Linked DNA regions of Homo sapiens. The protein of the gene in region 1 interacts with the protein of each later gene in a biochemical or structural test. Each region holds a gene or a part of one and is shown in the gene's direction. Other genes may lie near its edges. The genes, in order: ATAD2, E2F2 and E2F3.

Evidence for each region.
Region 2: the proteins of ATAD2 (region 1) and E2F2 form a complex in vitro, tested with the Homo sapiens proteins (one study listed by BioGRID).
Region 3: the proteins of ATAD2 (region 1) and E2F3 form a complex in vitro, tested with the Homo sapiens proteins (one study listed by BioGRID).

The regions. Positions count from the first base shown.
Region 1 is NC_000008.11:123,393,293-123,400,741, reverse strand, and holds the start of ATAD2 (ATPase family AAA domain-containing protein 2), read left to right. Parts: upstream 1-4,294; 5' UTR 4,295-4,384; coding exon 4,385-4,555; intron 4,556-7,449. UniProt on the Homo sapiens protein: May be a transcriptional coactivator of the nuclear receptor ESR1 required to induce the expression of a subset of estradiol target genes, such as CCND1, MYC and E2F1.
Region 2 is NC_000001.11:23,521,139-23,528,302, reverse strand, and holds part of E2F2 (transcription factor E2F2), read left to right. Parts: exon of another isoform or gene 1-898; intron 899-1,232; exon of another isoform or gene 1,233-1,373; intron 1,374-3,524; exon of another isoform or gene 3,525-3,714; intron 3,715-3,814; coding exon 3,815-3,920; intron 3,921-6,246; coding exon 6,247-6,466; exon of another isoform or gene 6,467-6,717; coding exon of another isoform or gene 6,718-6,731; intron 6,732-7,164. UniProt on the Homo sapiens protein: Transcription activator that binds DNA cooperatively with DP proteins through the E2 recognition site, 5'-TTTC[CG]CGC-3' found in the promoter region of a number of genes whose products are involved in cell cycle regulation or in DNA replication.
Region 3 is NC_000006.12:20,481,843-20,489,006, forward strand, and holds part of E2F3 (transcription factor E2F3), read left to right. Parts: intron 1-919; coding exon 920-1,078; coding exon of another isoform or gene 1,079-1,107; intron 1,108-4,846; coding exon 4,847-4,961; intron 4,962-6,270; coding exon 6,271-6,406; intron 6,407-7,164.

The DNA.
Region 1 (7,449 bases):
TAAGGGCTGAGGTGAGGTCCGCCTCATCAGCTATGAAGTCTATGAATCCTGGGAGAATCAGGAACTCGTTGTAGGTGAGGCTGTCGGCTCTGGCGAAGAGCTGCTGCGTGGTGAGCCCGTCCTCGGGCACGCAGCCGGTGCCCTGGCTCATCAGGTAGTCTGTCAGGCTGCCAGAGACCCGGCGACCCAACATAAACACCCGCTCGGCTGCCAGCCTGCCAGGGCAGGCTATTTTTTTGAGACTGGGTCTCACTATGTTCCCCCGAATGGTTTGGAACTGCTGGGCTCAAGCGATCCTCCCACCTCAGCCTCCCAAGTAGCTGGTACTACAGGCCCGCACCACCACACCTGGCTTTGTGTAGTGTGTTTAATAAGCTCCCTGGGGAATTCTATCTTTGAAGTTCTGGAAGCATTTTCAACTATTTTGGACTTCCTACCTCAGGGCCTTTGCACTTGTTCTTCCCATTCTCTGGAAAACCCTGCCAATTTTTTGATCGGCTGATTCCTTCTCATATTTTACGTGTCATCTAAAATGTCGCCTCCTCAGACTGATCTTTCTTTTTTATTTATTTATTTTTGAGCTGGAGTCCCACTCTGTCGCCAAGGCTGGAGTGCAGTGGCATGATCTTGGCTCACTGCAACCTCTGCCTCACGGGTTCAAGCAGTTCTCCTGCCTCAGCCTCCCAAGTAGCTGGGATTACAAGTGTGTGCCACCATGCCTGGCTAATTTTTGTATTTCTAGTAGAGACAAGGTTTTGCCATGTTGGCCAGGCTAGTCTCGAACTCCTGACCTCAAGCAATCTGCCTGCCTCGCCCTCCCAAAGTGCTGGGATTACAGGTGTGACACATGCCTGGCCTCAGACCTTTCTTTCTTTCCTTCTTTTTTTGAGATGGAGTTTCGCTCTTGTTGCCCAAGCTGGAGTGCAATGGCGTAATCTCGGCTCACCGCAACCTCTGCCTCCCAGGTTCAAGAAATTCTTCTGCCTCAGCCTCCTGAGTAGCTGGGATTACAGGTGCCCGCCACCATGCCCAGCTAATTTTGTATTTTTGGTAGAGATGGGGTTTCTCCATGTTGGTCAGGCTGCTCTAGAACTCCCGACCTCAGGTGATACCCACCTCGGCCTCCCAAAGTGCTGGGATTACAGGTGTGAGCCGCCCCGCCTGGCCTCAGATTGACCTTTCAAGTCCACTGTATGTTTCTCTCCTCTTCCTTCAACCACTCTGTATCACATGACCCTGTTTCATTTTCTTTATACCACTTGCTATAATGAAGTTACCTTGTTTATTTACTTCCTTGTTTATCCACTGAGTACCTCTTAGAATGTAAGCTCCATGAACCTAGGGTTCCTGGTTCACTGCTTTACTCCCTGCACCTCTAACTATGCTTAGAATAAGATGGGGGCTCAATTAAAATTTCCTGAATAAACAAATCAAATGAGATGGTATATACAGTATATAGTCGTGTGGTTTTTTTTTTTTTTGAGACGGAGTCTTGCTGTGTCGCCAGGTTGGAGTGCAGTGGTGCCATCTCGGCTCACTGCAACCTCTGCCTCCCAGGTTCAAGCAATCCCCCTGCCTCAGCCTCCTGAGTAGCTGGGGCTACAGGCGTGCACCACCACGCCCAGCTAATTTTTTGTATTTTCAGTAGAGACGGGGTTTCACCATGTTGACCAAGATGGTCTCAATCTCTTGACCTCGTGATCTGCCCACCTCGGCCTCCCAAAGTGGGGGGATTACAGGCGTGAGCCACCGTGCCCAGCCATAAATAGTATTTTAAAACCAAGTAATAGTAAACTCTGCTACTTTTTAAATTTTTTAAACTGTACTACTTTAAATATTGTTCCTTTCTTTTTCACCTATGTTGGTTAAACAATTATTTTAAAGTTTTTTTCTATTGTAAAAGTGAAGCATATTCATGCAAGAAAAATCAGAAAAATTGTTTGGGCATGGTGGCTCACACCTGTAATCCCAGGCTTTGGGAGGCTGTGGTGGGAGGATTGCTTGAGGCCAGGAGTTTGAGACCAGCCTGGGCAACAGAGTGAGACCCCGTCTCTAAAAACAAATTAGCCAGGTGTGATGGCACACACCTGTGGTCCCAGCTACTAGGGAGGCTGAGGTGGAAGGATTGCTTGAGCCCTGGAGGTCAAAGCTGCAGTGAACCGTGGCTGCGCCACTGCACTCCAGCCTGGGTGACAGAACAATAATCTGTCTTCCTGGGGACGGTAGCTCACGCCTGTAATCCTAGAACTTTGGGAGGCCAAGGCAGGTGGATCACCTGAGGTCAGTAGTTCGAGACCAGCCTGGCCAGCATGGTAAGACCCCATCTCTACTAAAAATACAAAAATTAGCTGGGCATGGTGGTGCACGCCTGTAATACCAGCTACTCTGGAGGCTTAGGCAGGACAATCGCTTGAACCCGGGAGGCAGAGGTTGCAGTTAGCTGAGATCATGCCACTGCACTCCAGCCTGGGCAACAGAGCAAGATTCTGTCTCAAAAAAAAAAAAAAAAAAAAAAGAACAAGAACCTCTCTCAAAAAAAAAGCAGGACTCCCAGTTAAATGCGAAGTTCAGATAAACAACAAATACTTTTTATATGTCCCCAGACATTGCATTCTTCATTCAGCAGCCACGCAGATTATTTTTAAAGTCGGAATAAGTCAAACCTCTGTTCAAAACCCTGAGATGTCTTTTCATCTCAGGGTTTGGATGGGAATTTGGGGGCTATAATAAAAGCCCTCAAAAGTTTCAAACTAAGACCCAGAGTCCCGTAGGACCTGCTCCCAGTGGCTCTGTTCTCATTGGCCTCGCCACTCTCCCCTTCCTGCTTCCCGCCTCTCTCTTCTTCCAGAACCATCTAACCTTTAGGCCTTTGTCAGACTTCTCAGCCAGACCTTCCCTAATCACCCTATTTTAAATTGCACTCTTCCCTCCCCCTTCCCTACTTTATATTTCTCTGTAATGCTTGCCACTTTAAAACTTTTACATTTAGTTTATTGTCTTTCACCTTCCACTAGAGTTTAAGTTCCATTAGGGCATTTTTGTTCTTTTTATTCACTGCTGCATCCCCAGTGCTTAGAATAATGCCTGGTACATAATAGAGGCTCAATATGTATTTAACAAATATTAAATTAATGAACTGTAGTTATCCAAATCAATAAATAGCTTTCGTTTATTTCGCTAAGAGCCCTCGGACATTCTGATCATTCAGCGTGTTACCTATTTCAAAGTAGTCAAGTAACTGCCATCTTAGAGAAGCCATCTTCTTGTATTCTGTGATAATAGCGAACGCTTATTGAGCACTTATTATGTGCAAGCACGGCTCCAAGGTATCATAATAGTACTTTAGGGCCTTAGGTATTACAATCGGAGTTACTTTCCGATTATATGTACATTCCGAGATACGTATAAAAAGTATTTGTTCTTTATCTGAACTTCACATTTAACTGGGAGTCCTGCTCTTTTTTTTGAAACAGGTTCTTTTTTTTTTTTTTTTTTTTTTTTGAGACAGAGTCTTGCTCTGTTGCCCAGGCTGGAGTGCAGTGGCACGATCTTGGCTCACTGCAACCTGTGCCTCCCGGCTTCAAGCGATTCTCCTGCCTCAGCGTGTGAGGAAATTAGAATGCAGGGAGGTGAATAATTTGTTCGAGATCTTCTATGTGGGATGATCAATGGCAAAGATGGGTACAGAACCCGCGTCCTTAACTAAACGATGGCACTCTGCTGGCTCGCTTTTAGCTCCTTGTGTTTTCTTTCTTTTTGGTGGTTAACTTGTTTTCGTCAAGCCCTCAATTATTTAAAAAAAAAAAAAGTTCTTAAGGCTCAAAGTCAAAACCTGTCAAAGGCCAAGTGCTTTATTTCCCTCCAGTCAAGGACTGGGCATTTTGCATTTGAATCCTGGATGGCGGGAAGCAGCAAGCAGGTGTCAACAGGGGTGGGGAGGAGACGCCGGACCCCACCAGCCAATCAGAGCGCGCAGAGGCCTCCCTTCCCCCGCCGCCGTCCCGCGCCAAAATTCCAAACGGGCTACGCACCGCTCCCACCGTCTCCTTCCGCCGAGCTCAGCGAGCCGGAACTATGTGAAGAAAAAGAAGTCAGCGTTTTCCCCAGGACTCTCCGCTCAGGTCCTCTATACTGTCGGCCTGTGTTCCTCTCCACGTTGGCCCGGCCTCCTTCGCTCTACAAATGGGAGGAGAGTTTCGAGCCTGCTGTTCTACGGTGGTGGCGTGGGCGGGACAGACGGCGGAGGGATTCTGGGCGCGCGCGCTGCGGCCGCTGGCGCGGAGCTTGTGGCGCCAGAATTCGGAGCGCGGAAGAGCCAGAGCTGCGAGCGCCTGGAGCTGGATCTCTCTCCGGTCGCGCACGCCGAGGCCAGTAGGGAGAGAAGATGGTGGTTCTCCGCAGCAGCTTGGAGCTGCACAACCACTCCGCGGCCTCGGCCACGGGCTCCTTGGACCTGTCCAGTGACTTCCTCAGTCTGGAGCACATCGGCCGGAGGCGGCTCCGCTCGGCCGGCGCGGCGCAGAAGAAACCCGCGGCGACCACAGCCAAAGCGGGCGTGAGTACGGGCCTGAGGCGGGCTCCCAGGGCGGTTCCCGGGGGGACTGCCGGCAGCCCGGCGCTCGGAGGGGCCTGGGGGTGGGCGGCGCCGGTCAGGGTGACAGTTGTCGGGGGAGAAGTGTGGTCGAGGACGAGTAAAATGGAAGCTCTCGGGATCGGAGGTGCGGGTCGGATCGCTGAGCTGAGGCTGGCCGGGAGAGGACTAAGCATTTGGTCACCACCTACTTTTACGCAAGAGGAAATCGAAGCCCGCCACAGCGGAGTGCGGTCTGGGGCCAAGCCGCGGCTGTTCGGCCGCCCGCACGACCCCCCACTCCCTGGCCGATCGATCGCCCAGGCTCCTGCCCTAGGTTCGCATCAACCTGGAGGCAACACGCATCCCCTGACTGCTTTCTGTCTGCGCCATAAACGTTGGGGGGGAGGGGGCACAGGGACAGACAGGTTGTAATTCAGGTTCTCTGACCTCCATTAACGATCCAGAGGAGTTCCGTAATAACAGCGCAGTGAATAATACCAGGTTGCATAATGTGGAGGGATGAAGACCAACATTTCATGTACGCCCCCCGCTTCCAAGCCTCGTCATAACCCTTTGAGAATGCGTAGTTGTGCTATCTCTTTGACAGATGAAGAAACGGATTCAAAAAGGTAAACAGTAAGGGGTAGATCTAAAATTGGAACTCAGATTGCCTGCCTCCTAAATCGTTCCCTTTCTATGCCGTCATGCTGCAGTTACAAGCAGTGTCTATAGGGGAAGTTTGGAAGGAAGGAGGGTCCTCTTGAAAGAAGTGCTGCTTCTAGGTCTGAAGTGCAGTGACGGTTTTTGCAGGGCAGAGTTAAAGCTGAGCAGTTACTCCCCTCCCATCCACCTCCCCACCCCAGCTGCTGAAAGAGGCCTAGGTGGAGGGGTTTCAGCATTCACAGAAGGTTGAAGAAGTCGGGGAAGCTCGCTAGTAAATTTAGTTAAGGCAGCAAGTAATATATAGCTGGACTGAAGGTGTTGGAGTGAGTGAGGGTAGGCATGGAGTAGGAAAAATAGGACCTGAGAGAAGGTTGGGAACTTGGGAATGAGAATGAGAGGCTCAGGGGAAATGTGTGGTGGAAGTGACAATGTAATCCTCTTCAGTTCAGCAGACGATTTCAGGGTCTTGTATTAAGTCTTCTATTAAGATCTTGTATTTAGATAACTATATAAAATTAGTTGCCAGTATCTTTTGTGGGCATCCCATTCTGGTTGCTACTCTACTGAGGGGAATGGGTTAAAAACTACACTCCCTTCAGTCTCTGAAATTGTGATTCTGAATTGAAAAGACAAGTAATTTCCTGACTTTAAAGATTTGTTTCTCAGTCATCTGCCAGGAATTGGCAGAGACCTGGAGAGGCCAAACACTTCTGCACTGGAATTGGTTACTTGACTTAACCTGTGTTCAGAAAATGTGTTTCAATACTGATTGATTATTTATGTCCAGGGTAACACTAGATCCTGTGAACATAATGATACGTACTGATATATTGAATACTGGTTAAATACATAGGCTCTTTTTTTTTTCTTCGAGACAGAGTCTCACTCTCTCATCCAGGCTGGAGTGCACTGGTGTGATCTCGGCTCACCGCAACCTCAACCTCCACCTCCCGGGTTCAAGCAGTTCTCCTGCCTCAGCCTCCCAAGTAGCTGGGATTACAGACATACACCACCACGCTGGGCTAATTTTTGTATTTTTAGTAGAGACAGGGTTTCTGTATGTTGGCCAGGCTGGTCTCGAACTCCGACCTCAGGTGATCCACTTGCCTCAGCCTCCCAAAATGCTGGGATTACAGAATTGAGCCACCCTGCTTGGCCAAATACATAGACTCTTAAGAAAACTGTTAATTATGAATTTCAGTTTCAGCTTCTCAGGTTTACCAATAATCATCAGGTTTCTACACTTGTTAAATGGGATGATACCCACCACATTGGTAGTGAGGATTAAATGTGATCATGTATGTAAGGAGATTAATTGAACAGTTAGCATATGGTTAGGATTCAGTCATTGTCAGCTATTAAGACCATCGTCAGTTTTAGTTAATGGCCACTCCGTTTTTTTTTTTCAGTTCCTCAGGAAAAAAAACCTTAGGTTGTTGTTGACTCCTCACATCCAGTGCATTAGCAAATTCTGTTGGCTCCACTTTCAAAATATATTCCAAGTCTGACCACTTTATATGTCCTCCAGTGTTGCCATGCTGGTTCAAGCCATAATCTCTTTCCTGGATTATTTATTTATTTATTATTTTGAGACAGAATCTTGCTCTGTCACCCAGGCTGGAGTGCAGTGACGTGATCTCGGCTTGCTGCAGTTTCCGCCTCCCGGGTTCAAGTGACTCTCCTGCCTCAGCCTTCCAAGTAGCTGGGATTACAGGCATGCGCCACCACGCCTACCTAATTTTTGTGTTTTTGGTGGAGACGGTGTTTCACTGTTTTGGCCAGTCTGATCTCAAACTCCCGGTCTCAGGTGATCGGCCCACCTCAGCCTCCCGAAGTGCTGGGATTACAGGCATGAACCACCGCGCCTGACCATCTTTCCTGGATTATAATAGATTCTTGATTGGCCTCCTTCCCGTTTTCCACTGTTTGATATATATATTATGCCCCACCTTCCCTCAACAGTCAGTTCTCTTTATTTATGCATTTATTTATTTTTGAGACAGAGTCTTGCTCTGTCACCCAGGTTAGAGTGCAGTGGCACCAACGTGGCTCACTGCAGCCTCAACCTCCCAGGATCAAGTGATTCTCCACCTCAGCCTTCTAAGTAGCTGGAACTACAGGGGCTCGCCACCACACCCAGCTCATTTTTAAGTTTTTTGTAGCAATGGAGTCTCACTATGTTGCTCAGGCTGGTCTCGAACTCCTGGACTCAA
Region 2 (7,164 bases), on another chromosome or scaffold:
GCTTCTGTTTAAAGGGACCTCAGGCACTGTCCAAGGATGGCAACCAAGTTCAATGGCAGAATGAAGGCCACAACCCAGATCTCCTGGCTCCCTGTCCAGAGCTCTTTCCAAGTCCTCTGAGGAAGGCTCAGGGAATGCCCCTTTATCGCATGCCTCCTCTGGCCAGGCGCATGGCATCATTCTCTTTCACGCCTGCAGGAAGCTCTGCCCAGGCTGGCTTGCAATAGCGCCATCTCTGCTCACTGCAAACTCCACCTCCCAGGTTCAAATGATTCTCCTGTCTCAGCCTCCCAAGTAGCTGGGATTACTTTTTGTATTTTTAGTAGAGATGGGGTTTCACCATGTTGGCCAGGCTAGCTTCGAACTCCTGACCTCAGGTGATCCACCCGCCTTGGCCTCCCAAAGTGCTGGGATTACAAGCGTGAGCCACCACGCCCGGTCCTCCTTTTCTTTCAATTTGTCTACATTTTCCAGATTTCCTCTTGTGAGGCATGAAAGAAAATAAACATTTTAACACACAACTCTACAAGGCAGGTCAGGTGAGGAGGTGTAGGCTCAGAGAGGCAAGACAGTGAATCCCAGGCTGTTCAGCTACGAAGTGGCAGAGCTGGGATCTGAAAGCAAGGTTCGACCCCTTACATTTGCTCCTACCCCCACCATCTGACTTAGGGCTTAGGAGAGACCAGGCTCCACTCTGCGTGACCTTGGGCAAGTCAATTCCTCTTCCCCAAGTCCCAGTTTCCTCACCGTGGTGCCCGTAAGGGGGTTGTGCCTGGTGATCTCTGACCCTCTGCACTTCTGCAGCTGCCTGAGGAAGGAGCTGTACTCTTCTCCATAGGGGTTGGCAGGGTGGGCTTGCGTCCTGACCAGGCCTTGAAGATCCAGCCAAAGGGGCTGCCTAAGAGCGTCCAGGATAGGGCTAAGCTGGCCTCTGGCTGTGGCCATAGCCTTTGCTCTCCTCCCCTCATCGCAGTCTCTTTTCAGCTCACCCTTGAACTTTCCCCTTTTCCCACTGGTGCTCCCCATACATCAGTGCTAGCAGCTCCCTGGTGGGGGCACTCCCTATGGGCAAAGCGCTTTGCTGCACTATCTCACTGAATCCTCAGCATAGGTGGAGACAATGATGCCCATTTTATAGGTGACTTGACGTCAACTGATTTCCCAGCTAAGAAGGGGAAGGCCTAGATGCAAAGCCAGGCCAGTCTGACTCCAAGACCTGTGCTCAGCCTCACCTTGATGCTGATCCTCCTGGGCTTGTCCTCTGCCACCTGTGTTCTGCAGGTTCAGCCCAAGCCATAGGCTGACTTTCCTCTGGGCACTGTCCAAAGGTGTCAGGGAGGTATCCTTAGGGGGACACTTGCCGCATTGGGACCCTGGGAGTGCAGAATAAGGGTGAAGGAGAGTGAGAAAAGAGAGAAGGCTGTGTGTGTGTGTGTGTGTGTGTGTGTGTGCAAGTACATGCAGTGATGGGGGCAGGTGGGCGTAGCCCAGGCCTTGGCCCAAATTCTAGCAAATCCTGGGGCAGCGTGTGTGGGATGCAGCTGAGGCAGCCTGGTACATGGCTTTGCAGTCAGACAGGCCTGGGTTCAAACCCTGGCTCCGGCCTTTGTGTGACCTTGGGCATGTGCTTACTCTCTGTAAGTCTCCATTTTTTGGCTTCCGAGAGCCAGTGCCAATACTGATGTGGTAGGACTGTTACGAGCATGTAACAGGCTCAGCATAGATATTCTGTTCAAGGTCTTCCTGGGATTCTTTCTGGTTTGTTCTGGCGGGGGAGACAGGTGTGGCTGGGGAGGCTCTGGGCTGCCCCACCTCTGCCTCAGGTAGAACTCCACCTGAGCTTCCCTTCCTCTCCCTGCCCTTGGTGCTCCTGCTGGGGGATATATGAAGAATACTAGGATGTGCAGCCTTGGTCAGGATTGATGGAGGCCTCGGAGCTCCCCAAGCCTCAATTACTTCAGCTGTACAATGGGGATTAGTGGTATGGGAAGATTCAGTGAAGTGATGAATGTTGGGGCGTGGTTCAGGGCATGTGGAAGGTCTCAGCCAGTGACTGGCCCTTTCTCTAGTGACAGCATGGGGCTAAATCTCTAGAATATAGGATTTCACCAGTTAGGAAGGTAGAAAAGGAATATTCAAGAGACTCATTCAAGAATGAGCAGTAAAGTGTTTGGATGGTTTCCAGGTCTCGGTAGTGGTGGAAAGCAAGAGTGTTATATCCAGGCTCCTCAAACCAAGGAGCAGGGCTCCTCACATCAGCCCAGGAAGACTTCCTGGAGGGGGCAGGAGTGGGGGAAGGGGAACTGACAGCAGGAAGAGCTGTCACCACCTCCAACACCTGTCAGCCCAGCTGTGCTCAGCAGCAGTTAGAAGTCTCAGCCCTGCTGAGCATGACCTCACCACTAAATGTTAAAATAGGCCTCTCTGTCCAAGCCAGGGTAGGGGTGTCTGGGGGATCCAGAGTTGGAAAGAGGAAAGAAATGGGCTCGATGACCCCCAGAAGGATGTATGAAGGAAGAGGTCGAGATTAGATTTTAGGGAAGGGACTCTGTGTTTCCTGAACACCTACTGTGTGCTGAGACACAGGCTGAGAACTTTACAGAAGTTAAAGGAGCAGGAGCTAACCAGGGTCTTTCTCCCACATGCAGACAGGGAGCTAAATAAGTGCTTCAAAGGGAAGCCACGCGGGGATTAATTCAGCCTGTTCCAGGGTTTTTAAGATGCAGAGGCTGCCCAGGTAGTGCCTTCCTTGAATCCTTACAATAGCCCCTTGAGGTAGGCATTTTTACCCCATTTACAGAGGAAGAAACTGAGGCTCCTTAGATGTGTAACATTTCCCCCAACTTGTACCGTGAGCCTGCGAAGGAGCTGGAGATTCAAGCATGGGTCTCTGACCTATGTCCCAGTGTCCCAGTGCCCCAGCTCTGCCCCTGCCCTGCCCCTGCCCAGCCCTAACCAGGAGAGAGGCCCTTTCCGGGCCAGTGCAGCTCTGGGCCTAATTGGGGCCCGGGTGGCAACAGGGTGGAGAGGAGCAGATGGGTCTGTGGTTTGATTTCCCCAGCAGGTGTTTCCCAAGCTTGGCGGGAACAGAAAGGGGGAGCTGGAGGGGGGGGGTGGCCTCAGCTGCTTGTCCTTAAGACACGGGAAGGATTCATTGTCTGCCCCTCTCGGCAAAGAAAGAATGGCAAATGCAGTCTATTCAGGAGGCCCTGGGGCCCTCAAGCTGGAGCCCAAACATGGGGGTGGGGATGTTTGCACTGCTTCCCACTGTGGGCACCTCCCTGGGTTGTGGCACTGAGCCAGGAAGTCCCCTGGGTCTGGGCGGATGCCCAGCCCCGCCCTGATAAGGACCAGCTGTGGGACTGTGATGGGCACTCAGTCTAGCTGGGCCAGCTGCTTCTGTAGGGGGGCCCTTTCCCCACCCTGATGTGGTTTAGGCCCCACCCACTGCTTCCTCCTGGTATCATCCTCTGGGTGTGGTGGGGTGAGGAGCAGGTATAGGAGCCGGCTTAGGGCCCGTGGTTAAGGAGCTCTGAGCCCTTGGCCAGACTGGCTTTGGTAGGGTCTCAAGTGCCTGGGCCTCAGAGGATGGGAGTTTTATTTGCCCTTCAGAAAACAAGATTTCCCCTGAAAGCTCACTTCTCAGGTCACTGATGTTTTCCTATCAAGTACAGCAGTGCTTCACCAGGACTGGCGGTAAACTGAGGCACAGAGGTGGCTGCTAAGTGGCTTCATTGCTTTGGCCCCACATCAGGGAAAGGCTAAAGGAGGAATGATTCTCAAACTCTGCCTCTCTCTCCCCCTTTTCTCCAAGGCCAAAAGGAAGCTGGATCTGGAGGGGATTGGGAGGCCCGTCGTCCCTGAGTTCCCAACCCCCAAGGGGAAGTGCATCAGAGTGGATGGCCTCCCCAGCCCCAAAAGTAAGCAGTGCTGATGGGGCCTCTGGGGTGGGGTGGGGCAGGGGCAGAGGGCAGTGCCCTGCCCAATCACTGGTAGTCATATTTGGATCACTTTCCAGTTTACAAAAGCTTCCTGCGTATTTTATTATTTGATCCTGCCAGGTAGGTAGGCTTGTCTGTCTTTACTAATCAGGCAACTTGAGACTCAGAGAGCTTGAGTGACTTGCCCATAGTCTCAGAGTGGAGTCAGGACTAGAGCCTGGACATGTAAATCTTGCATTACTTCTGTGTTTTTTTTTGTTGTTGTTGTTGTTGTTGTTGTTGTTGTTGTGAGACAGGTCTCGCTCTGTCACCAAATGTGGATTGCAGTGGTGCCATCTTGGCTCCCTGCAACCTCCACCTCTGGGGTTCAAGCAACTCTCTCACCTCAGCCTCCCAGGTAGCTGGGACTACAGGTACATGCCACCATCCCTGCCTAATTTTTGTATTTTTAGTAGAGACACAGTTTCACCATGTTGGCCAGGCTGGTCTTAAACTCCTGACCTCAAATGATCCACCCGCCTCGGCCTCCCAAAGTGGTGGGATTACAGGCGTGAGCCACCATGCCTGGCCAGTCTCGCACTACTTCTACCATACCATGTACTGCTCTCATGATCTAAACTCAATGACCAGTGTTTTATTTGGGAATTTATTATTTTTAAAACGTTTTAATGTTTAGGTCAAGGTAAATTTTTCTAAATCAGAAGAGCAGGGGCTAACCAGGGTCTTTCTCCCACATGCAGACAAGGAGCTGAATAAGTGATTCAAAGGGAAGGGAAGCACAGATTAATCCAGTCTCTGCCACCCCAAAGGTTTTTAAGATCCAGAGGCTGCCCAGGTGGTGCCTTCCTAAAGCTAAGTTGGAGGGGGTTGCTGCCTCTTGATATTTTCAGTCAATATCCTGGATAGGCTGAGCGTGGTGGCTCACACCTATAATCCCAGCACTTTGGGAGGCCAAGGTGGGCAGATAACCTGAGGTCAGGAGTTCCAGACCAGCCTGGCCAACGTGGTGAAACCCCGTCTATACTAAAAATACAAAAATTAGCCGGGTGTGGTGGCGCATGCCTGTAATCCCAGCTACTCAGGAGGCCAAGGCAGGAGAATCACTTGAACCTGGGAGGCAGGTTGCAGTGAGCCAAGATCGCACCACTGCACTCCACTCCAGCCTGGGAGAGAGAGTGAGACTCCATCTCCAAAAAAAAAAAAAAATCCTGGTTAGAGCAGGAGTTAAAGCAACTGTGTTTGGGAGGAACACTAGTTTTGGGGGTCCAGGTAGGATTCTGCTCCGACCTGACAGGTCACTCCTGTGAACCTTAGTTGTTGTGAACCTTAGTTGTCTTGTGTAAAAGAAGACACAGCTAGATCAGGAATGGCAAGAAAGTTTCCTCTACATTTGATTGGTCAAGGCTGCCCAGAGCACTGTCTTGAAGGATCCTGAGGCTCATGATAACTGGTCCTCCTCCAGAGGAACCTAAGACTCTAAAATTCAGGTTCCAGAATTACTGGATTGGCCACTAACTTGCTATATGACTTGGAAGTCACTCGATTACAAAAGTCCCCTCGTGGTTTAAGATGCTGCAGCTGAGATGTGGTCTTGCAACATCAACCTCATTGAGAAAGGGACCTTTCTCATGAACCTCCCCGACTTGATGTTACAGGACCGATTTTTCTCAGATAATCATTGTGATTCACATGGGAAGAAAAAGCAAGTGTGTGTCTATAAAAATGCTCTTAAATCCAGGCTTATCATTTCTACCCTATTCTAATTCCAAACTCCGGACATTTAAGTGGCAGGATAGGGTAATGGTTAAGGAAAACTCTGGAGTCAGACTGCCTGGATTTGAATTCCAGCTTTGCCACTTTCTAGCTGAGTGAGCTGAGCAAATTACTTAAACTGTGCCTCAGTATTCTCATCTATAAAATGGGGATGATTGTACAGCAACCCTTACAGGGTGTTGTAGGGCTTAAATGTGTTCGTACATGGAAAGCACTTAGAACAGTGACAGTAGTTGTGGGTGGTGGTCTGGCAGCCCTAAGCTGTGGTGGAAATGTGCATTTAACCAGGAGTCAGGACACTAGGCTTCCAACACTGCCCATTGGCCGTGAGACCTTAAGCAAGTCACCTTCCCTCTTAGGTATCAGGTTCCCTGTCTGGACAGTGGTGGTGATGGATGCCCTGGCTCACACTGCTTTGTAAACTGGAAAGTGGGTGGTGAAAGGTGGTACTTAATGAGCCTAGGTCAATGGACGAGGGTCCTGGGCGGGCCCTCCCCTCCCTGAGCTGTGACTGGGTCCCTTTCTTCTTCAGCCCCCAAATCCCCCGGGGAGAAGACTCGGTATGACACTTCGCTGGGGCTGCTCACCAAGAAGTTCATTTACCTCCTGAGCGAGTCAGAGGATGGGGTCCTGGACCTGAACTGGGCCGCTGAGGTGCTGGACGTGCAGAAGCGGCGCATCTATGACATCACCAACGTGCTGGAAGGCATCCAGCTCATCCGCAAGAAGGCCAAGAACAACATCCAGTGGGTGTGAGTGCCTGGGCGGCCAGTGGTACCCTCCAATGGGTACTTGTGCTGTGGGCGGAGCCAGAGGCAATAGCCAGTGGGTGTGAGTGGCAGGGGCGGGGCTGAGAGCAACATCCAATGGGCACAAGGGCTGAGGCGGACCAAGAGCAACATCCAATAGGCTTATTGCTGGGGGTAGAGCCAATGTATGGTGAGGAAGAGCGCCGTGTACCTGCTGAAGTAATCGGAGAACGTGATGCGGGGCAGAGTGGAGAATGACATCTGGGAGGTGTAAAGGCCAAAGGGAACCTCAGATTCTTCCTCTTGAGTCAGAGATCCCAATATCCACTTCTTCTAGCTTAGGGCAGTCCCCTGGGAGCTAAGTAGGGGGATCCCGGACTCCTTCCAGATCTGAGATAGGAGTACTCCAGCCTCCTCTCTCCATTTCTACAGGGTTTAAAGAGCTGACCTATAGCCCTTGGCATAAATCCTAAGAGAAACCAGGCAGGGGAGGGAGTCAGGACTGAGGCTACTCCAGTTGGAGGAGGCTGGGGCATAGGGATGAACAGAGTCGAGAGCCCCTCAGAAATGGGGTTCAGGTCTTGACTTGTTTTTTCTCCCAAGCCCAACCCCCAAACCTCTGGTTCCAATCCCTGGTAGCTCCCTGAGAGACAGGCATGACCACTGATTTCCACAACCCAGGGAAGCACCCTCATAGACTA
Region 3 (7,164 bases), on another chromosome or scaffold:
CTGCATAGTTACAGAATATCTTTATCCATGGTTCTAATAGCAGATTAACTCACTTTCTGGGTAAATTAAGGCAAGACTTAAATGCCTCCATTTCGTCTGTAGAGCAGGGATGGTAGCATGATACTTATACAGCCACACGTATGATTACATATGTAATATATTTTGTGAATTTTAGAGCATCTAAATAGCCACTATAAGCACAGTATTGAATTATTAAAGCATTTTGGAAGGAATAATTCTGTTACAGGAGGGCTTTGAAAAGATACTAATTCAGATGGAAGATGAATACATACCTTTTTTTGCACATTTTGGAATTTTGTTGACAGTTTGGTAACCCGTTTTGGCCTCTGGTTTAGAGAAACATATTGTGCACTAGTCTCAGTTCTTGCATACATCACATACATCTGTTTCCTTTACTTTCTTTTCTTTTTAGTTGTTGATATAAGACCCTCAGTAATTACCTGAGTTTTTGATGCTTTTTTGGATGGGTTGTTTTTTTGTTTTTTTTTTTTTTTAATTTTGAACCATTCCATCTTCTCTGTCTTTCTCTATCTTTTTATCCTTTTTCGCCTTTCTTCCCCCACCACCTGGGAGCCATGAGGCAAGGGAGGAAGGTGGTTGCCTTCTTTTGCCCTCTGAATTTGAACCTTCTGAAGAAGTAGACCTCCCCTGGAGGAAAGAATCCTGAAAATAGCAGTGCGCTTTCACTAAATTTCTATGCTGTGAAAAGTGCAGAACTGTATTTATGAAAAAAAAAATATATATATATATATATATATGTGTAAATGTTCTAATTTTAACACTTGGCTAACAAGCAATGTGACCTCCTATGTCAAGAGGAGACATTTACCCAAAGGATCATTTCTCCTTCCCCTCCCTCCCATGAGTAGCCATGAAGAGTCTGTGTTTGGGTTTCTAGGGGCTGCAGTCTGTCTGAGGATGGGGGCATGCTGGCCCAGTGTCAAGGCCTGTCAAAAGAAGTGACCGAGCTCAGTCAGGAAGAGAAGAAATTAGATGAACTGATCCAAAGCTGCACCCTGGACCTCAAACTGTTAACCGAGGATTCAGAGAATCAAAGATATCCTTTGTGCCGCCAGTTCTCTGGGGGTTAGTGCTTCCTAGACTATTTCCAGAGTTGACAATCTGACTTATGCACAAGGTAGATTATTATTCTGATGTCATGCAAATGAGTACCTGTGTGCCTGTGTGTGTATGTGTGTGTGTGTGCACGTGTGTGTGTAAACCCAGTTAGCTTTGCCTAAAAAGTCAGTATTTATGGTAAGATAGTCACCAACTCGATCCTATTATTATCTATTTTGATACCAGGTGGGAACTGTTTTTTAAAGCATTTTTTCATGTGTGGTTGAGACATGGGTATACTCGTAGCGTAAGGCCACACTATTAAAAGATACATAAGGTGTCGGTATTAATATTAATGACAACACTAAGCAGATTCGTCTTTGGCTTCCCAGATTTTTGGTGGGTGTTAGCTGTCACTGTTGGGGTTCTCACATTCTATTTTCTTCTCACCAGATATCGTAGCAATTGAAATTGGTTGAATCTATCTGATTGGGCTATAGTTGAAGGGTTTGAAAGAGTAGAGAAAAATCATACTATAACTCTTAAAGTGCATTCTGCTGATTCCCAATGAAAAAACTGATTTCAAAAGCACCCCAAGACCTGAGAAACCCCTCTCAATTCCTCTGTTCCACTACAAACATTAGTCCTCGCAAATAAAAATACAAAAGGTCAGTTCTTGTTCTCAACTTCCTGACAATCTATTGACGATCTCAGGAAAACTTGCTCTTCATCATCTCACTACAGACAAAGTAAGAGAGAGATTGCCTCATTATGTCAAACAAGACTTGCCAATATTCTCAGTTATTAGAAGACAAAAAACAGTACTGTAAGTTATCCCATCTCTAGTTTTAGTTCCAAACTTCTGATGATTGCACATTTACCATTATTTGACAAAAACTAAAAAGTGTTCTGCCCAGATTCTTCTAGTGTCTCATCTTTAACAGGCTCCCCCTTGGAGAATATGGAGATATTTATTTTCTTCCAATGTTGGCAGTTTTTCAAACCTGCAATTGTTCATTTCCTGTTGACCAAAGAATTAACCTTGTCAGCCGATAATTAGTGAGATGGAAGAGAGGCGTAGTGATTTGGACCCCCAGTGGTTGGCAGAGTGGGTTTACAGGGGAAGAAACCAACAGTTGGGCTGTTTCATTCATTGTTTGGTTGGGAGCCCCATTGTGGAAGAGATGGGTGGTTACATGTGATTGGCAGCCTTCCGGGACATGTGGCTTATGGCATTGTCACCTATATTAGCTCTCTCTGGGGCCTTTGTTGCAGAAAATGAAAGCTTCCTTGCAGGGAACTTCGAACCCAAGGAGTAAATTCAGGAGGGAGCCACAAAGGAAGCACTTTTAAGTTTGTAAGATTAGAAAATACATTTGCACAATTTATTTCAGTTCACCATTCAGTTCCCAAATTGGTACAGCTTGTTCACAAATGTGTTGAAATTTTCCTTCCTGCAGCATGTTGAGTAATCGTAGATGAGTTTTTCTTTTACACTTGATCTTAGCCAAAAGGCCAAGAAGTGATGAGTTTTTATTTTAATAAGTTCTTGTCATACAGCTTTTTGACAGTGAGCTGTAGTGTAAGTACCTGGTTGTCAGTTTTTTCCAGTGTTCTCAGTAAAAAATCAGAACTGCCTGGCCCTCTATAAAGGCATCCGTTGACTTCTTTGATGGGTTATGTAGTGACCTAAAACCCAGAATCCTGCAAGAGCAGCCACTACAAGCTCAACACTGAATTAGCCATCATCTCAACTGTAAAGATTTGAAGGAGATAGTCTGTGATAGATCCCCTACATGTGTATGCAGATTTCGTGTGAATGTGCTTTCTTTCTGGAGTAGTAGTTCCATAGCTGCATTCAGTTTCTAATAAGAAGCTACTACAGCCAGGCACGGTGGCTCATGCCTGTAATCCCAGCTACTCGGGAGGCTGAGGCAGGAGAATCACTTGAACCTGGGAGACAGAGGTGGCAGTGAGCTGAAATCGTGCCACTGCACTCCAGCCTTAGTGACAGAGTGGGAGTCCGTCTCAAAAAAAAAAAAAAAAAGAAGCTACTATCGTAAGGGACATGATTTATTCTAGGGTCTCTAAGCCCCCCCTTTTTTTTATATTAAACATATTAGATCACGGACTCTATTAGCCATTAAATACGTTATACTACCTGCTGAAATGCCTTCATTGGTTTGTTACTTGCTGTTTTATCCTAGGAATTTTTTGTGGGTACATATAAAAAATAATAACGGGCTAAAGACATTGTACATTAATTGAATACTTTTGTCATATCGTAAGTACCATATTCTTTCATGATAGCCTTTTAGGCTTGGCTGTCAGGACATTTAAAAGAATGGTTCAGTGCTTAGAAAAAATGACCAAGGCCGGGCGCCGTGGCTCACACCTGTAATCCCAGCACTTTGGGAGGCCGGAGGCAGGCAGATCACTTGAGTCCAGGAGTTCAAGACCAGCCTGGGCAACAGGGTAAAACCCCATCTCTACTAAAAATAAAAAAAATTAGCCGGGTGTGGTGGTGCACGCCTGTAGTCCCATCTGTTTGGGAGGCTGAGGCACGAGAATCATTTAACCCCAGAGACGGAGGTTGCAGTGAGCTGAGATTGGGCCACTGAACTCCAGCCTGGGTGACAGAGCAAGATTCTGTCTCAAAAAGAAAAAGGAAATAACTACCAAGAGTACTGAGATATTATACTTTTCTCTTTTCCTAAATCAGTGTTTCTCAAATTCATTCAAGTCGCAGAGCACCTGGAAACTGCTTTCTTCCTCATGAACACTGAAATATTGATAGAGTTAATATAGTATCACGCAAAGCATAATTTTTCTAACAGAAATAATGACACTCTTTTCTGTAGGCAGTACATAATCACAACCAGCCCAGGTGCACTTAAGAAAACAAGCTGTCTGCCTGAGCAGTATTCTGAGTTCCTCCACTAATGTATTTGTTACTTATTTATTTACTTGGTGGCTGCTGACACTTGCTTGTAGATAGAAGTAACTGGAGTTTCAAAAAAATTATGGCTAATAGAGATTACATTTTTTTTTCCTGCAAATTGGAATCTGCCATCATTCAGTTTGAGTGACAGAACACTTTATTGGAGTTCATGGAATGCCTGTGCTGCAAAGGACCCTGGCTTCAAGATAAAATTTCTGACCACTTAGTTTTTTATTTTCTTATGATCATTTATTTTAACTGTTCTGTTTCTATGTTTAATATTTTAAATAGCCATAGTCTTTTTAGAAATGGGCGGGATAAAGCTATTCATTTCTTTAGTTGTTTAGAGTGTCAACCAGAAATGAAGATTCATGGGAGACCCTAAACATTTGCACATCCAGAAGGGGAGACATACACATACTTTTTTGAGAAGGAGTCTCGCTCTGTCGCCCAGGCTGGAGTGCAGTGGCGCGATCTCGTCTCACTGCAAGCTCCACCTCCCGGGTTCATGCCATTCTCCGGCCTCAGCCTCCCGAGTAGCTGGGACTACAGGCGCCCGCCACCACGCCTGGCTAACTTTTTGTATTTTTAGTAGAGACGGGGTTTCACCGTGTTAGCCAGGTTGGTCTCCATCTCCTGACCTCATGATCCACCCGCCTCGGCCTCCCAAAGTGCTGGGATTACAGGTGTGAGCCACCGCGCCCGGCCACATATGCATACTTCTAAGTCATAAAATACTTTAAAATATTCCATGCATCTATTTTGTCATTTTCATCATACTTATATCTGAGGTAATTAGATGGAAGATTCCTTGACACTCTTTACGTTAGCTTATGTTACATATCAAGATATTCGAAAAATTAGTGGCCTTAAAGACCAAACTGTTATAGTTGTGAAAGCCCCTCCAGAAACAAGACTTGAAGTGCCTGACTCAATAGAGGTAAGGAGACAGCGTCTTTGTTCATCTGCAAAGATCTTTGTGGAATGCCTGAAATTGAATGACTCATTGACTCATAGTTAAAGTCTGTCCCCCTCCTATGAACTTGATGGTTCTTTCCCATTTATTTTACTTAACCATACATTTGAAAACATTTCAATGGTTTGATGTTCATTGAGTATTCAAACAACCTAACTTTGACCTAGCAGGATGTTCAGTTCAAAGTGGTATATGATGCGCTGTCCCTCTCATACTTTCTCTTTTTCATAATTTGTCATCAACGGTTTTGATCAATTTGAATCACTTTGGAAAGTTTATATTGATTATCCTGTATATGGTCCCCACCACGAACAGATATATAAATGTTTTAAAGTCTCTCCCTAACTTATAACATTTTGAGAGATCACATGGGGCTTTGGGTTAGCTGATAGACTAGAATATTGCAAGAAAGTAGGGGGCATATTTTTGTAATTTTCAGATATACTTGGATAATAGAGGCCTAGACTACAACTATAACATAAAGAGTTGTAGTAAAAAGAAAATGCATAGGAGATAAAAAGAGAATGAAAGTTACACGCTTCCATCTAGGGTAGACTTCTTACCTTAAAAGATAATAATAGCTCTTTGACCTAGATGAAAAAGATTTTTAAATGTTGGTATGCTGCATTCTCTTAATAGATGCAGTTCCTAGCACTTAAGAATACTATTCATCAGTATACAGTTCAACATGAAAAAGTCCTACCATAAAGGAACAATAACATGGAGATACTGAATTTGGAACACTTAAAGGACCTTGTAATAATTTGCAGAAAAAGAATATATCCAAAGAACACAATTCACCTCACCCATTGTGCTATTTTCAGAATGACTCCCCTCTCCCCCAAGCCCCACTAAAATAGTTTTCTTTCTCTAGGGCAGGACTCAGCAAACTTTTTCATTGAAGTGCCAGGTAGATAGTAAATATTTTTGGCTTTGCGAGCCGTACAGCCTGTGTCTAGACTATTCAACTGTGCACCTCTGACATTGTGATACGAAAACAGCCAGAGGCAATAATAAACAATGGGAATGGATGTGACTCTCTTCCAATAAAACTTTATTTACAAAGCCACTTGGTGAACTGGATTTGGCCCTTAGGCTGTGGTTTGCTGACCCCTGCTCTAGAGGATGACAGTCTTTCATAGAGTTGGACTAGTAGGGAAAAAGCAAGTGAAAAACGAACATTGTTCTTACTTTCCATTTTTAGACAAGAATTACTATGGCTTTTATTTCTAAAAGAACTTCTGATTCGAACTTCTCCCACTTCTGTTCATAGAGCCTACAAATACATTTGGCAAGTACCCAAGGGCCCATTGAGGTTTACTTATGTCCAGAAGAGACTGAAACACACAGTCCAATGAAAACAAACAACCAAGACCACAATGGGAATATCCCTAAACCCGCTTCCAAAGGTAAAAACTCCACTTTTGTCTTTTAGAAACTATGTTAAAAATGAGGGTGACTAGAACCATCTGTATTGGAACCACAAGCCTAGGCAAGAAACACAAACTTCTATTGGTATTAGGTAACATGTTTTAAAAGACATTCTGACTGGTTTGCAGAAGAAAATAATGATTTGGGAAAAACGGCTCCTTCACCCACTTATGGAGTCGCTTCAGGCTTTTGCTATTGGCAGAGAATGTTTCCTTACAGCATTTTTGAAAACCAGCTAAAGTGAGGAGCAAAGCTGTGAACTGTCTTGTTGGATCATCAGAGACACTTGGCCACACACCTTTGAATCACACTGCAGAGCTCATCAGAGAGGGAAATGAAAAAGGTTTGAGGAGAAAAGCCTTTGTTGGAGAATTTTTGTCTTATTTTCCCCCCCAATGAGATGGGGAGAGGATATGGGAGGAGAACGCTAGGAAAGTAAGTCTTGCCGGGTGCGGTGGCTCACACCTGTAATCCCAGCACTTTGGGAGGCCGAGGCAGGCAGATCACGAGGTCAGGAGATCGAGACTGTCCTGGCCAACACAGTGAAACCCTGTCTCTACTAAAAATACAAAAATTAGCTGTGCGTGGTGGCACGTGCCTGTAATCCCTGCTACTCGGGAGGCTGAGGCAGGAGAATCACTTGAACCAGGGAGTCGGAGGTTGCAGTGAGCCGAGATCCGCCACTGCACTCCAGCCTGGTGACAGAGTGAGACTCCATCTCAAAAAAAGAAAAGAA